Regions from separate parts of the Homo sapiens genome. Here region 2 is linked to region 1. The links come from fine-mapping of genetic effects on gene expression. A gene starts in region 1. The other region holds a variant in brackets. All regions are shown on one strand. Distances are from middle to middle.

Region 1 (2,908 bases):
GGGCTCTCCTCACGTGACCAGCCGCGGCGGTAGCTTCCAGCGAGAGTTTAAAGGTTACGGAGGAAATTAGCAAGGACACAGCCACTCGCCCCCCGGAGGGCGCGCCCCATTTTCCCGCAGCCCGGACGGCGGCTGTCAGCGCGCTGATCAGTGCCGAAGTCCCCCAAAGGGGCACCGATAAGGACCAGCGCAAACAGGAACAGTCACTTTGCAAAAAATAAGCAGACCACAAACCAAGCCGGGGCTCTACCGAGCTTTCACTTGTCAACAAGTTCTCGCAGCCTGCGAAGTCCAGGACAGATCCCAAAGGGGAGAATGTCCCCAAAGAAAGGCAAGAGAGAAGAACAGAGTTTAAAACTTCACCCGAGCCATGCTTGTCCCTCCCCCTTCCCCCTCCCCCACCGCCGTGGATCACAGCGTCCCGGGACAGAGTGACAGATGGGCCAGAACTCCGCAGACTGCTCCTGCCCGCCGCGGCCCGAGTGGGGGTGGGCAAGGGAAGGGTCCCGAGGCCTCTAGGGCAACAGGGCCCCCTCCACTCCCCCATCCCCGGCTCTAAAAGACAGTGTTGGCCGCAGGGTCCCCGAGAGATACGCGGCCCGGCGGGGCCCATCCATGGCCATCCACGGCCCCCGGCACGCGCATCCAGCCCAGCGCCGCCGCACCCCGGGGTCCCGCGCGGGGTCCCCGCCCCCCGGCTGACCCGCCCGCCGCTGCGACCCCGGGCAGCCTCGCCAGCTCTCCACCGTTGTCTCCTCGGCTCACTTTTTCCGTATTGCTCCCCCAACCGGCAAAACTTTCTATTTCCCCAAACACTGCCGTGCGCGCGCGCGCGTGCACACACACACACTCACACACACACACTCACACACACTGACGTCTTTTGCGCATTTCCTGCATTAGAGGGAGGGAGACTCGCTCGCACACCGACAGAGGGAGAGGAGACCGCGGGGGAGCGCGGGCTGGCGGGCGGCGAGCGAGCGGCAGCCGAGAGCGGGGACGCGGGGAGCGCGGAGGGCGGGCGCCGGCGCCCAGGAGGTGGGGCCGCGCTGAGTCGCAGTCCCTGCCCCGCCGCCGCGCTGCGCACCGCCCGGTGCTGGCCTGCGCCCCCGAGCCGGATCGGCGGCCGCCCGGACTCCGAGCCCGCGCGGATGTGAGATTCCGGGCTCCTGGCGCCTCCCGATCGCCGGCTCCGGCGCGGCGCTGCTTCGCCCAGGAGGCGGCGGCCCCGGCTGGCCGTGGGGCTTGTGGATTTTTAAAAATTTGGCTCCGAGGAGGACCATTTCCTCTCGACATGCATCCCTCCGGATAGACTGAACATCCCTCCGTTCACCCCCCCGCCCCGCGCGGTCAGAGGCAGGCGCTGAGTGTGCGAAGAGGATCCGGGTTGAAATCTGCGCCCCCGGTTCTCGTCCCCGCCCCGTCCCACCGCCCCATCCCCCTCCCGGAGTCGAAATTTCCCGGGATTATGTTTCGGAAAGGTAGGTAAGCGCCGGGCGCGGCGCCCGCTTTCCCGCAGTCCGGAGCCGGAGAGCCAGCGAGGCGGCGAGGCAGCCCCCGCGGCTTGCAGCGGAGCCGACAGCTCGTCTTCTCTTCTGGAGGTGCAGCTGGTGGTCGGGGGGAGAGACTTGCTCCAAACACGGACATCCCCCAGCTCTCCCCCCTCCCTGTTTTCCGTTAGGAACCCGGCGAGGAAATACATGCACTGGCTGAGAATCGCCCGCGCCAGGGCGCAACGCCACAAGGTGTAGGGAGTGTGCGGGGTGGGGCGAAAGGGGACCCAAGAGTCCCTGTGGCTCGGAGTGCCGGGCCGTCGGTTCTTCATTCCTGCCCTCGGGGCAGACGGAGTGACCCCGGCCCCCACTCCCCGCCCCGACCATGGTAGTGTTCAATGGCCTTCTTAAGATCAAAATCTGCGAGGCCGTGAGCTTGAAGCCCACAGCCTGGTCGCTGCGCCATGCGGTGGGACCCCGGCCGCAGACTTTCCTTCTCGACCCCTACATTGCCCTCAATGTGGACGACTCGCGCATCGGCCAAACGGCCACCAAGCAGAAGACCAACAGCCCGGCCTGGCACGACGAGTTCGTCACCGATGTGTGCAACGGACGCAAGATCGAGCTGGCTGTCTTTCACGATGCCCCCATAGGCTACGACGACTTCGTGGCCAACTGCACCATCCAGTTTGAGGAGCTGCTGCAGAACGGGAGCCGCCACTTCGAGGACTGGGTGAGTGCGGCGCCTCCCCGTCATTCCGGGAACCCGGTTGTGGGGTCCCGGGGAAAGACTCGCTGGTCTTGATCGTAGGGCTCCGGGACTTATTGACGACTGGGGTGTGTGTGCCTGTAAGTCTCAGTTTCCTTGGGGAGGTACACTTCACTTCATAGTTGGGGAGAAACAGGCATTGGCGAGGAAGATGAGACTTGGAAAGAGGATGTGGCCCTCTGCTCCCTCTGTGCCCTCCAGTTGGTGGGTGCTGCGGGAGGTTTGCAAACTGGGAGAGCCTGGGCCACTGGTGCTGAAGGTTGGCCGAGGACCCGGCTTTCTTCCGCAGGCGCGTGGTGGGCTGGCTGTGTGTGATTGTGTGTGGGTGGGTCCCTCCGTCCTTGGAAAGGCACGTGGAGCCTTTGACTGAAGGCTTCTTGCACGTCCTGGCTTTGTCCTGCTTAGCCGAGCGAGGAGTTGCTTTATTTTTCCCTCCGAGAGGAAGCTGGCTTGTTTCTATTCTCTTGCATGGTGGTTAGCTCATCTTCTGACATACAAGTAGAAAAAATGTGTTCTCCTCCAGGATGTCTCCTCTATGGTCCCAGAAACATCAGTCGAGCTTGTTTTGTCCAATTCATTGCCCATCCATGCAGAATGAATGTTGCATTTTAAGAAGGGTTCTGCTTGTGGGTAATTGGAAGTCAGT
Region 2 (2,908 bases), 250 kb after region 1:
ATTCTTGGAAGTCTGTACCGTGCTGGCCTTGGTTTGTGATGAAGCTCACACACGATGTCTGTAAAACCCTGAAGTCCAGCCAGGTGCGGTAAAAGAGTATGGTGACTTCAGAGTTTAAGAGCAGGTCATTTTGCAATAACTTTTTATAAGAGTACATGGCCATCTTTGCCTTAGGATAGTGAAGTGGTATTTTCCAGGACAGAAGAACTGAAATCATCTGAATTTCTAGGTTGTAGATCCCACAGTCCTTGGGAATTTTGACTTACAAACTAGGAAATTATTTCACCCTCATAAAAATCTCCAACCCTCTCAGGTCTTTCCCACTCCCACTTGGGTTTGAATTGGAGTGTTTGCCCAGCCATGGTGATGATTAGGAGGTGTAGCAATATGGGCCCAGAAGGCGACTTTGGGATTCATCTCTCATCTCTCGTAGTGCATGAGAGAAGCCAGCTCACGGCTCTCTTAGAAAACATCCATTGTTCCTGAAACCTGCAGTAATTGGAACATGAGTGTAATACATACAGTAAACAGAATTCTGCCTATAAGCTCTTACCAAAAGCCTGCCAATGCCCAGCCTGCCAATGCCCAGCCCATCTTGAACTAAGGGGCTGTGATCCAACAGGAGGATATTGCCCACAGGTAGCTCCAAGTCTGCCTGAGGAGCTAAGATAGAAATGAAGTAATCAGAAAATACTAGCAAAAGTCAAATCAGGATATTTGGATTAACATCCTGAGGACATGGGATGTGTGAAAAGCTGTGCTGGGGAAAAGTCAGAAATGAGGAACTGGCTGGAGTGGGCAGGAGAGGCCAGGAGGGTCAGGGAAGTTCTTGGAGCTGGAACTTGGGTAAGGTCTTCAAGAAAGACTGTGACTACACTGGTCTGGGAGCTTGGCTAGGAAGACTTCTGAAGAACCCAGCCCCCAGACCTAAAGTAGGGGCTAGAAAGAAACAGTAACTCAAGGGTTAGTTATGTTTCAAAAATATTTACATTTCTGATATCCAAAGTGTTCTCTGTAGGGTTAATAGCTATTAGAAGGGAACTGGAGTTCAGTGGGCTCTGTGGCCAAATAAGTTTGGATAGTGCTTGAGTGAGCACTGGGAGTTTCTGGACTGCAAGACTACTCAGGCCTTTGTATGCTGATGTACAGTGACTTTCCCAGATGGGCATATATAGCATACAACTTCCTGCTTATTTGATTGTGGAATTATGTATTTTCCCCCCAGGAGGATCCTACGTGAATATAGTTTAGTTCCAAATAATATAATTGAGTTGAGGAAATGCTAGTCTAAATGATTTCACTTCAGTATGTGTTTTAGTGTGAATCACTATCAATAGTCATGTTTTCAGTGGTCTCAGTGCCCGAGGGAGTTGATTGGAAGGAAGTCAGAGGGACTTCATTAAATAAGTCAGTGAATGAGGAGTCCTCCAAGGGATCCCTGCCTGGCAAGAAATACCCTCAGGCCATCTTGGTTCAGAAGTTATTCCTCCATACATTAACAGGCACATAACACAGGCTTTAAAAAA[T/G]ACTAATTTTGTGAATATTATGGCTACTCCATAGACAGAGCATCCCCTTTTCTTCACTTGAGATACAGGGAAGGATTTTGTGTCAATGGTATGGCGTCACCATCCCCATGGGACAGGGTTGCAGCAGCTGGGGCTGTGAGGGAAGATGAGGCCGAAAGACCCAGCAAGATTAGGGTTGCAGGTAAGATACAGGACACCGTTAAATTTGAACTTCAGATCAACTCTGTATAATATTTTGGTATAACTATGTTCCAAATATTGCATGTCACATAGTTATAAAGAATTATTTTTTCTGGAATTGAAACTTAAACAGTCATCTTGTATTTTTATCTCCTGTCTGGTAACCCCATGTAAGATGTTCAGGGAAGCCTAGACACACAGACCAGAAAGTGATGTAGAATGTACAAGGCAAGGCAGTGAGGAATGATTCCAAGTTTTAGAGAGCCCAGGTCTTCCTTCTTGGAAATGGGTTAATACATCCTCAAACCCTCTTCCCACCTCATCACTTTCATCATATCCCCCTCAGTTTGGGAGCATTTGTATATGAGAGCTTGTAGCCTGGCAGTTTTTTTTTGTTTGTTTGTTTGTTTGTTTGTTTGTTTTTTTTGGCAGGGTCTCACTCTGTTGCCCAGGCTGGAGTGCAGTGGCATGATCCCTGCTCACTGCAACCTCCCATTGCTGAGTTCAAGCGATTCTCGTGCCTCACCCTTTGGAGTAGCTGGGATTACAGGCACGCACTACCACACCCAGGTAATTTTTGTATTTTTAGTAGAGACAGGGTTTTGCTATGTTGGCCAGGCTGGTCTCGAACTCTTGATCTCAAGTGATCTGCCCTCCTCGGCCTCCCAATATGCTGGGATTAAATCAAGTGCAAGATCCAAAATGTTACTAAAAAAGCTTTTCAGCTTTTTAGATTCTCTTAAAAATGCAAACAAACAGACAAAACAGTTTCTTAGAAAGAAGCCGGTTGCGTGCGAACCGAGAAGTCTTGAAACCAAAAGAACTCCAAGTTCCCTGCCTGTGCTGAACACTATGGGGGTGGCACGTGCCCATCCAGGGCAAATCACAGGGGGAGAAGATGAGGTTTCTTAACAGTACCACCTCTCACTTTTGGTATTTGTAATGGAGAACACAGACTTATATCACATGTGAAAATGAAACAATGGTTTAAAAAGTCATGTCTCTGTGCTGGCTCTGGATGAGATGAGCCTTTTGAGAAGGCAGAGGCGTGCTCGGTGGGTTGGGCTCTGGGCATTTCTTCCCCTGCCAAGAAGCGAAATGTCTTAGCTCCATGTGCGTTGATGATTACTAACTGGCCAGGGCTTACTGTAAGTGGGCTGTGCTCGGGGATCTCACCAGGAAGAAAAAGAATCAAACTAATC

Direction of the effects. Positions count from the first base shown, and alleles are read on the strand shown. Sizes are in standard deviations (SD) of each study's normalised expression.
In carriers of allele G in region 2, the expression in sun-exposed skin of the gene that starts at base 1,453 in region 1 tends to be higher than with T alone (small effect, 0.33 SD a copy in GTEx).

Evidence for each region.
Region 2: its variant is fine-mapped to the expression of PRKCE in sun-exposed skin (GTEx, PIP 0.96).

The regions. Positions count from the first base shown.
Region 1 is chr2:45,650,223-45,653,130 of GRCh38, forward strand. It overlaps PRKCE (protein kinase C epsilon), which reads left to right and starts at 1,453. Exons shown (of 15, transcript NM_005400.3): 1 at 1,453-2,226. The coding sequence starts at 1,879. LOC102724965 (a long non-coding RNA gene) reads right to left here and starts at 993. Exons shown (of 2, transcript XR_005647119.2): 1 at 1-993. RefSeq lists silencers at 613-712, 883-1,352 and enhancers at 728-1,022, 1,511-2,131.
Region 2 is chr2:45,901,791-45,904,698 of GRCh38, forward strand. All of the region lies in intron 2 of PRKCE (protein kinase C epsilon), which reads left to right. Among named protein-coding and RNA genes, the nearest start is that of PRKCE-AS1, 230 kb to the left of the region's middle. RefSeq lists an enhancer at 2,804-2,873. The variant T/G (reference allele first, on the strand shown) is at 1,527.